Linked DNA regions of Homo sapiens. Changing the gene in region 2 together with the main gene of any one other region gives a genetic interaction. Each region holds a gene or a part of one and is shown on either strand. Other genes may lie near its edges. The genes, in order: PLA2G4C, CRYBB1 and LCK.

Region 1 (3,648 bases), on a different chromosome or scaffold from region 2:
CTGTGGCAGAGCTGGGATTCAAAGCCTCATCTAGGCACCATTTTCCTTGCCCTCTGAGTCCCGCAGCCCCCAGCCCCAAAGGTTACTCTCTAACCTCGCGAATGTTGTCTCTAGGTGGGCTGGGGAGTGCGGGTGATGGCAGAGGCTTACTCTTTCCCTTACAGAAGATGTTGTCCCTGTCCAAGCTGACCCTTGCTCTGTTGTGTGTCTGGGCTGTTAGCTGAGGTCCCATTGGGTCTCCAGGCCCCAGGGGTCTTCTGGAGGGGTCTTCTGGAGAGGTCTTGCAACCATTTCTTATTGCCTCCTTCTCAGACCATCCGGGCTACCACTGACTACTGCCGCCGCCACAAGATCCCCTTTCCCCAAGTAGAAGAGGCTGAGCTGGATTTGTGGTCCAAGGCCCCCGCCAGCTGCTACATCCTGAAAGGAGAAACTGGACCAGTGGTGATGCATTTTCCCCTGTTCAACATAGATGCCTGTGGAGGTAGGTGCAGGGGAGGAGCAGGTGAGAAGCCACCTGTATTAGTCCATGCTCACACTGCTAATAAAAACATACCTGAGACTGGGTAATTTACAAAGGAAGAAGGTTTAATTGACTCACAGTTCAGCATGGATTGAGAGGCCTCAGGAAACTTACAGTCATGGTGGAAAGCGAAGGCCAAGCAAGTCACCTTCTTCACAAGGCGGCAGGAAGGAGAAGTGAGTGCCAGCAGGGCAATTGCCAGATGCTTATAAAATCATCAGATCAGCCGGGCGCGGTGGCTCATGCCTGTAATCCCAGCACTTTGGGAGGCTGAGGCGGGCGGATCACAAGGTCAGGAGATTGAGACCATCCTGGCTAACACAGTGAAACCCCATCTCTACTAAAAATACAACAACAAAAAAAAATAAATTGCTGGGCTTGGTGGTGCGTGCCTGTAATCCCAGCTACTCAGGAGGCTGAGGCAGGAGAATCGCTTGAACCTGGGAGGCGGAGGTTGCAGTGAGCTGAGATCGCGCTCCTGCACTCCAGCCTGGGGACAGAGCAAGACTCCTTCTCAAATAAATAAATAAATACATACCATCAGGTCTCGTGAGAACTCAACTCACTGTCACGAGAACAGCATGAGGGTAACCACTTCCATGCTTCAATTACCTCCCACGACACTTGGGGATTATGGGAACTACAATTCAAGATGAGATTTGGGTGGGGACACAGCCAAACCATATCACCACCAGGCCAGGCCGAATGGAGCTGTGCTGTGCCCTGGGGACATCTTGTTACGCTCCAACATCTGATGGTTGAGTGAGTCATCCTGTCCACCCTTGGGCCTGGAGGATGCCAGGCTGCCTCTCTCGGTCTTGCATGTTTATGCATGTTGCTGCCTCTCTCTGCAGCCTTCTTGTCCTACCTGAATATCCAACCCCTTCCACCTGGGCATCCCACATTCCTCATCCAGTCTCAGGTGAGCAGCTGCTTGGAAGGCCTAGCATCCAGGATGGGTGGTCCTCCGGGGCCTGATTGTGCCACTTCCCACAGTGGGCTCCTTTTAGCTTGTCAATCGTGTCTCCTGCGATGAGACTCCCATTAGGGATAAATTGTGTCTGTTTTCTTCCTTCATTTAACGAACATTTATTGGTTACCTATGCTGCATCAGCCATGGTTCCAGGAGAGGCAGGCTAGAGTAGTAAAGAAGACAGGAAGCAGGGGGCCAGGCGCGGTGGCTCACGCCTGTAATCCCAGCACTTTGGGACGCCAAGCCGGGGCAGATCACCTGAGATCAGGAGTTTAAGGCCAGCTTGGCCAACAGGGTGAAACCCCGTCTCTATTAAAAAATACAAAAAATTAGCCAAGCGTGGTGATGCACGCCTGTAATCCTAGCTACTTGGGAGGCTGAGGCAGGAGAATCGCTTGAATCTAGGAGGTGGAGGTTACAGTCACCCAAGATTGTGCCATTGGACTCCAGCCTGGGAGACAAGAGCGAGCCTCTGTCTCAAAAAAAAAAAAAAAAAAAAAAGAAAAAAGGACCGGAAGGGGCATGGATCATAAAAATATAGATAAATCCATAACCTCATGTGTCAATAAAACTTTATTTATAAAGCCAAAGTAGTGGGCCGACTGGATTTGGTCCACAACTGTAGTTTGCCAAGCCCTGATGTAAATAGACAAAAATCTGCAGAATTAATTGTCCAAACTCATGATGCCTTTTCTTTGTTGGTTTGGTTATGCTTCAGGTGATATTGAGGCATGGAGTGACACATACGACACATTCAAGCTTGCTGACACCTACACTCTAGATGTGGTGGTGCTACTCTTGGCATTAGCCAAGAAGAATGTCAGGGAAAACAAGAAGAAGATCCTTAGAGAGTTGATGAACGTGGCCGGGTAGGTGGGAGACCATAGTCGCTCTGATGCCTATGCTCGTTCAGTAAGTATCTGTTGGAGAACTTTCTCTGCAACAGGCAGGAGGGTTGCATGGGTGAAAAAAGATAGGCAGTGTCTCCCCTACTTGAGCTTGCGTCTCAGCAGGGGACAGACCATGAACAGGGTCAGGAGTGAATGGTTTTCTGAAGAGTGAAGCAGGCTGTGTTCGTTTGCTAGGGCTGCTGTAACAAAATACCACTAGCTGGGTGGCTTCACAGAAATTGATGGTCTCATGGTGCTGGGGGCTGGAAGTGTGAATTCATGGTATCAGCAGCGCTGGTTCCTTCTGGGATCTGTGAGGGAGAATTTGTTCCACGCTTGTCTCCGTGTATATTGGTCCGTTTTCACACTGCTGTAAAGAACTACCTGAGACTGGGTAATTGATGAAGAAAAGAGGTTTAATTGACTCACAGTTCCGAAGGCTTAACAGGAAGCATGGGTGGGAGGCCTCAGGAAACTTACAATCATGGTGGAAGGTGAAGGGGGAGCAAGCACATCTTTACCATGGCAGAGAAGGAGAGAGAGAGAGCAAAGCGGGAAGTGCTACACACTTTCAAACAACCGGATTTCATGAGAACTCCGTCACTATCACAAGAACAGCAAGGGGGAAGTACGCTCCCATCAATCACCTCTCACCAGGCCCCTACCCCAACACATGGGAATTACAATTTGAGATGAGATTTGGGTGGGGACACAGAGCCAAACCATATCTCTGTGAAAGGAAAATGAAATCTCAGGACCCCAATTCACTATGCCAAAAGGAAAAACTTAAGCTGTGGCTGGGCACTGTGGCTCATGTCTGTAATCCCAGCACTTTGGGAAGCCAAGACAGGAGGATCGCTTGAGCCCAGGAGTTCAAGATCTGCCTGGGCAACATAGTGAGACCAAGTCTCTACAAATAATTTTAAAAATTAGCTGGGTGTGGTAGCACAAGCCTATAGTCTCAGCTACTCAGGAGGCTGAGGTGGGAGGATTGCCGGAGCCCAGGAGTTTGAGGCTGCAGTGAGCTATGATGGTACCACCCCACTCCAGGCTGGGCGACAGAGCAAGACCTTGCCTCTAAAAAAAAAAAAAAAAAAAAAAAAATTAAGCTGAAAGCTTAATTAAGCTGAGTCATGCAAGAAACTGTCTTTCCTTTTGTTCCTAAGCCACAGATAAAAGGCCACAGATATCTCCACAGGTAACTTACTCTATCGATATGGTTTGGCTCTGTGTCCCCACCCAAATCTCATCTCGAATTGTAA
Region 2 (3,648 bases):
TTTGCAACCCCTAGTTCATGACACGCTCTCATGTGGTCAGTGCGTGGCAGGTTTTTATTTATGTACCTATTTAATCATTAGTTTTATTTAATTTCTAATAATGCAATATGCACCTACAAACCCACCACCCATATAAAAGCCAGGACTTGGTTAAAAACTTTCTACCTAACTCTAAGGTGTCTCCCTTGAGTCCATCATTTTCCTCCCCAACTCCAGGAAATACTGTCCTATCCTCAACCTGTGTCTGTAATCTGCTTGCTTGCTTTTGTATACAATTTTATGCATTATTCCTTTAAAAATGTATACACACATACACATGTATATTTATTTACTTGTTTTATTTATTCATTTATTTTGAGACCGAATTATGAGACGGGTTTTGCCATATTATCCAGGCTGGTCTCGAACTCCTAGCCTCCGCCTCCCCAAGTGCTGGAATTATAGGTGTGAGCCACCGCAACTGGCCGATTTACTTGTTTTTAATTTATTGAAATATGCAATGTGATTATTCTGGGCTTTTCTTTGTACTTTTCACTTACTATGAGATCCCTAATATCCATCCATATTGTTGCGCATGACTGCCGGCCATTCATTCTGGCTGCTGCCTGATATTTCAGAGCGTGACCATCTCTTTCCTGCTAAGCACGATTTCAGTGGTTGCTAGCTTTGCTCTCGTGAACAGCATGGCTTGGACGTTCTTATCCCTGTCTCCTGGTATCGGGGAACCTGCCCCGATATTCACATAGATTCTTTTCTATTTTTCCTAAGCGTCGGCCAGCTTGAGAAATAAAGGGACAGAGTACAAAAGAGAAAAATTGTAAAGCTGGGCGTCCGGGGGAGACATCACATGTCAGTAGGTTCCGTGATGCCCCACAAGCTGCAAAAACCAGCAAGTTTTTATTAGGGAGTTTCAAAAGGGGAGGGAGTGTGAGAATAGGTGTGGGTCACAGACATCAAGTACTTTACAAGGTAATAGAATATCACAGGGCAAGTGGAGGCAGGGAGAGATCACAGGATCACAGGACCGGGGCAAAATTAAAATTGCTAATGAAGTTTTGGGCACCATTGTCATTGATAACATCTTATCAGGAGACAGGGTTTTGAGATCAACCGGTCTGGCCAAAATTTATTAGGCAGGAATTTCCTCTTCCTAATAAGCCTGGGAGAGCTATGGGAGACTGGAGTCTATCTCATCTCTGCAGCGTCGACCATAAGAGACGACCACGCCCAGGGGGGCCAGTTTAGAGACCTAACCCCAGGTGCGCATTCTCTTTCTCAGGGATGTTCCATGCTGAGAAAAAGAATTCAGCGATATTTCTCCCATTTGCTTTTGAAAGAAGAGAAATATGGCTCTGTTCTGCCCGGCTCACTGGCGGTCAGAGTTTAAGGTTATCTCTCTTATTCCCTGAACAATTGCTGTTATCCTGTTCTTTTTTAAGGTGCCCACATTTCATATTGCTCAAACACACATGCTGTACAATTTGTGCAGTTAATGCAATTATCACACGGTCCTGAGGCGACATACATCCTCCTCAGCTGACAGGATTAAGAGATTAAAGTAAAGACAGGCATAGGAAAGCACAAGGGTATTGATTGGGGAAGTGATAAGTGTCCATGAAATCTTTACAATTTATGTTTACAGATTGCAGTAAAGACAGGCATAAGAAATTACAAAAGTATTAATTTGGGGAACTAATAAATGTCCATGAAATCTTCACAATCCACGTTCTTCTGCCATGGCTTCAGCCAGTTCCTCCGTTTGGGGTCCCTGACTTCCCGCAACATCCCGGGGCACACATACAGGAGTTTCTCTTGGGCAACCAAAGGTAGAAGTGGAAGTGCTGGGTCATGGTTATATGAACCTCCCCTCCTCTTACAGCTGGGGAAACTGAGGCTCAAAGAAGGCAGAAAATTGTGCCTTGGTCCATGTGAATGGCAACGTTGTCCCAACTTGGAACAGCAAGTGGACAAGGAACCAAACATGAGGCTTAGTGAGGAGAGAAGATTAGCTCAAGTTTTCCCCTATGTTGTGGAGGGTTGGATTTGCAAGTGTCTCCTGAGCATCAGCTCTGTGGCAGGTACTGGGGCTGGGGCTGGAGATACAGAAATTGATCAACCTCAGGCCCTGCCCTGGAGGAGTCCTTGGTCTTTGGAGGGGCTGGGTAATGGGAGAGAGGGAGTGCAGAGAGAGAGGGAGACCCCAAAGCAAAACAGCAGTGACTGTGTGGTGGGTTAGTTGTGCTGCTAATGGGGAGAGGACAGTGGGGGATGCTCAACCAAGGCCGATGGAGGAAGGGGCAATCAGAGAAGGCTTCCTGGAGAAGGTGGCACCTGAGCCTAAAACAGAATAACGAGCTGGAATGCGTATTAGGGAACTTCAGTTAGGCAGTGGGAGCTCCAAGCTGGATATGTGTGGTGGAGAAGGCATTCCAGGCAGGAGGAATAGCACAAAGAAAGGCCTGAAAGGGAGGTTCATAAGTTCCTAATGATGGCGCAGATCTTAGCTTCAGAATTAGGGCATGAGGCCAGGTGCAATGGCTCATGCCTGTAATCCCAACACTTTGGGAAGCCAAGGCAGGCCAATCATTTGAGCTCAGGAATTCGAGACCAGCCTGAGCAACATGGCAAAATCCTGTCTCTACAAAAAATAGCCAGGCATGGTGGTGGGTGCCTGTAATCTCAACTACTCGGAGGCTGAGGTGGGAGGATCGCTTGAGCCTGGGAGGCGGAGGTTGCAGTGAGCCATGATTGCGCCACTGAACTTCAGCTGGGGCGACAGAGTGAGACTCAGAAAAACAAACAAACAAACAAAAAACAAAAATCAGTAAAGAATTGGGGGATGGGAGGACAGGATCATTTCACAAACTGTGGCTCATCACACTTTTATGTGACTCCTGCACTGCTGGCTTTTATTTATGTAGATACTTAATGAATTTTTGACTCCCCCCTCACTCTGCCCTTGGCATGGGGGCTTCTCTCCTGCAGCTGGTGGTCTTCGAACTGGAAAACTTCCAGGGCCGTCGAGCAGAATTCTCGGGGGAGTGCTCAAATCTGGCAGACCGTGGCTTCGACCGTGTGCGCAGCATCATTGTCTCCGCGGGACCGTGAGTACTGGGCGGCGGAGGGGCACACTCTCTGCCACAGTAAAATGACCACACAACAGTAGCTGCCATTTCTCCAGCATCTGCTCTGTGCCTGCGGCCGTTCGTACTCCTGGCACATACATTATGTCCAATCCTCATATCAAACTGAAGAGGGAGGAATTGTTCTCAATCTCATTTTACGGATGAGGAAACTGAGGCTCGGAGAGGTGATCCAATTAGCATAAGATCACACTGGCAGTAAGCCATGGTTCTGGGCTCTGGAGAAATGCTGCTTCTACTATAGCAAAAACTCTAGCCCGGCCGGGCGCGGTGGCTCACGCCTGTAATCCCAGCACTTTGGGAGGCCGAGGCGGGTGGATCACGAGGTCAGGAGATCGAGACCATCCTGGCTAACAAGGTGAAACCCCGTCTCTACTAAAAATACAAAAAATTAGCCGGGCGTGGTGGCGGGCGCCTGTAGTCCCAGCTACTCGGGAGGCTGAGGCAGGAGAATGGCGTGAACCCGGGAAGCGGAGCTTGCAGTGAGCCGAGATTGCGCCACTGC
Region 3 (3,648 bases), on a different chromosome or scaffold from region 2:
CTCAAAGACCCCTCCACCCCTTAAGCCAGCCTCCCCCAACCCTGGCTCAGCAATACTGAGCCTCGAATTTTGTCCCAAGGGCGGCCACCCCGAGCTGGTCAAGGGCCGCAGGAGGGCTGCGGGTCGCGGAGATCGCCGCTCCCTCACGGACTCCGCCAGAGCAAGGTGGAGAGGGACTCACTGCTCCAGGATGCGGAGCTGTTCCCCCTTCTCAAAGCCCAGATCTCCGTCGTGAGAGGGCTCATAGCTGTGCAGAGCGATAACCAGGTTGTCTGTAAAGACAAGGGGCATCAGGGAGAACCGAGCTGGGATCGGCAGGAAGCCTGGAGTTACAGGGTGGGGGACAAGGAAGGCAAGACCGGGGAGAAAGTAGGTGGGGGAGAGGTGGAAGCCAACAGCCAGGGATCCGCAGGCCTTGTCTTTCAGGCCCTGCTGCCTGGGGTCACCTTGCAGTGGGGAAGCCGGCGGATTGGAGCCTTCGTAGGTAACCAGTGGGTCCCGCACCTCAGAGCCATTTCGGATGAGCAGCTGTGGAGTGGGGGATGAGGGTGGGGTCAGAAAGCAGAAGATTGGGTCAGACCCTGGCCCCCTTCCCCCCTGCTCTGCTCTCAGCCTCTCCAGCCTGGTTAGATGTTATCCCTGAGTTTACCAACTACTTTCTGTGTGATCTTAGGAGATTCCCTTCCCCTCTCTGGGCCTCTTTTCCTTTCTGTATTTCAGGGGAGAGGGCCACTCTATTCTTTCAAGGGCCTGTAGTGCTGGTCATTTCTTTCTCCTGGGTTGCATTCTCTACCCAACTCCCTCACCAAGGCCCCTGTCTCGCCTCTTACCGTGCCCTTGCCATCCAGTGGGACTATGGGATAATGGCAGTTCTCACACACATCGATGTTTTCCATCCAGTCATCTTCCGGGTGTGAGCTGCAGCCACAGCCCATGGTCCCTGAGGGAATGGAAGAGGGGGCTGAAGGGGCTCCCCCAAGATCTGCTCCCCCAACATCAGATATAATGGGGCCTTGCCCTGGAAAGTTCCAAAAGTACCTGAGATTGTGAGATCCTGGGATCCCCATTCACCAGCCACAGAAAAGCTAAAATAGGGGGTCCCAGCTCCAAACCGGTGCTCCCTCTGAGCCCTCAGGCTACAAGTAAATTCACACACGGCCCCTGAGCCCTAGCCCCACCCTCCCACCTGGGATGGGCAAACCGCCACAGGCACCTTTGTTAGTCTAGTTACCCACTTCCTGCCTCTGCCCCCTCCCTCTCCCTCTGCCAGTACCCTGTGTTGGGAGGACCACCTCCTAGAGATGACACACACTTTCCCAAGCCTGGGAGAGACCTGACTTATCAGACCCTCCCCTACTGGAGAGGTGTGCACGCCACACCTCCTATTATAATTCCCCTGTCTAGCTGAGGAGGCTGAGAAAGAGGCTTCTGCTCCCGAAGTCCACCATCAAGCCCCCGCTGTTCCCCTCACACAGCCCACAGTCATCTCACAGGGTTCCTTCAAACACGGGCTTGCTTCTCCCCAGCAGAAAACCCTCCAGTGACTCTGTTGGCCATAACTTTTTTTTTGTTTATTTGCCTGTTTTAGCAGTGGAAATTTTTTGTCTGATGAAATCAAGCAGAACTCCATAGATAAAGTGATAAATGTGTGCCTGTTTTGCCTGAAGCAGAGTGGGGCCCTCACTTTGAAGCCCCCGGAGTCCCTGCAGCTCCTCCTTCTCTAGGGCTGCTCCTCAGAGTGCTTGGAAAGCGCTGTCCTCAAAGTTTAATGTACCATGCATTCCAGACCTTTCATATCAAGATGAAATCCACCTCCGCAGTCTATTCTGCCACACACACACTCTCTCACACACACACACTCACACACACCCTATACATATACACACCCTACACACACACACTCTCACACACACACACAGAGGCACCCCCTATCCCACCTCCACAGAGGCATCCACACACACACACTTTCACATAAACACACACACTCACCCCTCACAGGTACTCCCCCACACACTCACACACAGACTCACCCTCCCACACACAGGCACCCACACTCACACTCAGTAAACACATACACTCACCCTCCACAAGTGCCCCCCCACACACACACTCACCCCCCACACACAGGCACCCACTCTCACACACGTACCCACACACACATTCATGCACACACCCTATACATACTCCCCCTACACACACAGGCTCCCACACCCAGGAACACACACACTCGTCCACACACCCACACAGTCACACCCACATACACACACACACGCATTCACCCCCACACACACGCACTCACCCCACACACACACATTCTCCCCTCCCCAACACACATTCATACACACACACAGGCACCTCCACACACTCACCCACACCCATGCACACATCCACACACTCACCTTACACACACACACAGGCATCCCCTCCATAGATACCCCCACACACCCACACTCACACACACACAAACACCCACACACAGGCACCCCCACACACCCCCACACACACAGCCTGTGTTCTGAACTATTCTTGCCTTTCCCAAACACCCCATGCTATTTTCTTACTTAATGCCTTTGTACTTGTGGTTCTCCCTGCTTTGAAATGCGTGCGCTCTCTCGCTCTCTCTCTCTCTCTCTCTCTCTCTTTCTCTCTCTCTCTCTCTTTCTCTCTCTCTCTCTCTTTCTCTCTCTCTCTTGAGACAGGGTCTCCCTTCCTCTCCCAGGCTGAAGTGCAGTGGCGCAATCCCCTTAGACCTCCTGGGCTCAAGCAATCTTCCCACCTCAACCTCCCCAGTAGCTGAGACTAAAGGTGCACACCATCATGCCCAGCTGATTATTTTTTTGTAGAGATGAGGTCTCACTATGTTGCCCAGTCTGATCTCGAACTCCTGGGCTCAAGCAATCCTCCTGCCTTGGCCTCCCCAAATGCTAGGATTATAGGCATGCACCACCGAACCCAGTCGGCATGCTCTCTTTTGTCCAACTGCTGAATTCTAACTCAACCTTCAAGGCTCAGCTGAAATATTACCTTTTTTTTTTTTCCTGCAACCTCTACCTCCCAGGTTCAAGCAATTCTCCTGCCTCGGCCTCCTGAGTAGTTGGGATTACAGGCATGCACCATCACGCTTGGCTAACTTTTGTATTTTTAGTAGAGACAGGGTTTCACCATGTTGGCCAGGCTGGTCTCGAACTCCTGGCCTCAAGCAATTCTCCTGCCTCAGCCTCCCAAAGTGCTCGGATTACAGGCACCTGGCCTAAATATCACCTAGTCTGAAGACTTCCCAATGCTCTTTGCTTCCCTCTCACCCCAGTCTCCTGCAACATTCTATTCAGACCTCAATAATCAACTTAGACACAGAGTTCCATGATTACTGATTTACATGTCAGCCCCAGGGTCCCACTGCCTCTCCCATACCTTTGATGAGAGTGGGGGTTCATCAAGAGCAGAAGCTGTAGTTTATTTGTCTGAAAGCCACCAGCACCCAAAATTAGTTAATAAATGTCAACTGGAACATGCAGTGTTAATGCATAGAGTCTCCCATCTGCAAAGGTCTTAGAAACCAGCAAGCCTAATCTCCAATTTTATTATTTGTTGATTTATTTTTGAGATAAAGTGTCACTCTCTTGCCCAGACTGCAGTGCAATGACCCAA

What was found.
Region 1: changes in CRYBB1 (region 2) and PLA2G4C together harm fitness more than expected from each alone (negative genetic interaction), as found in Homo sapiens cells (one large-scale study listed by BioGRID).
Region 3: changes in CRYBB1 (region 2) and LCK together harm fitness more than expected from each alone (negative genetic interaction), as found in Homo sapiens cells (one large-scale study listed by BioGRID).

What each region holds. Positions count from the first base shown.
Region 1 is NC_000019.10:48,051,714-48,055,361, reverse strand, and holds part of PLA2G4C (cytosolic phospholipase A2 gamma isoform 1 precursor), read left to right. Parts: intron 1-312; coding exon 313-484; intron 485-2,214; coding exon 2,215-2,365; coding exon of another isoform or gene 2,366-2,369; exon of another isoform or gene 2,370-2,408; intron 2,409-3,648. UniProt on the Homo sapiens protein: Calcium-independent phospholipase, lysophospholipase and O-acyltransferase involved in phospholipid remodeling with implications in endoplasmic reticulum membrane homeostasis and lipid droplet biogenesis.
Region 2 is NC_000022.11:26,611,528-26,615,175, reverse strand, and holds part of CRYBB1 (beta-crystallin B1), read left to right. Parts: intron 1-2,985; coding exon 2,986-3,104; intron 3,105-3,648. UniProt on the Homo sapiens protein: Crystallins are the dominant structural components of the vertebrate eye lens.
Region 3 is NC_000001.11:32,271,617-32,275,264, reverse strand, and holds part of LCK (tyrosine-protein kinase Lck), read right to left. Parts: intron 1,145-3,648; exon of another isoform or gene 1,068-1,144; coding exon of another isoform or gene 936-1,067; coding exon 831-935; intron 529-830; coding exon 447-528; coding exon of another isoform or gene 273-446; coding exon 182-272; intron 1-181. UniProt on the Homo sapiens protein: Non-receptor tyrosine-protein kinase that plays an essential role in the selection and maturation of developing T-cells in the thymus and in the function of mature T-cells. Plays a key role in T-cell antigen receptor (TCR)-linked signal transduction pathways.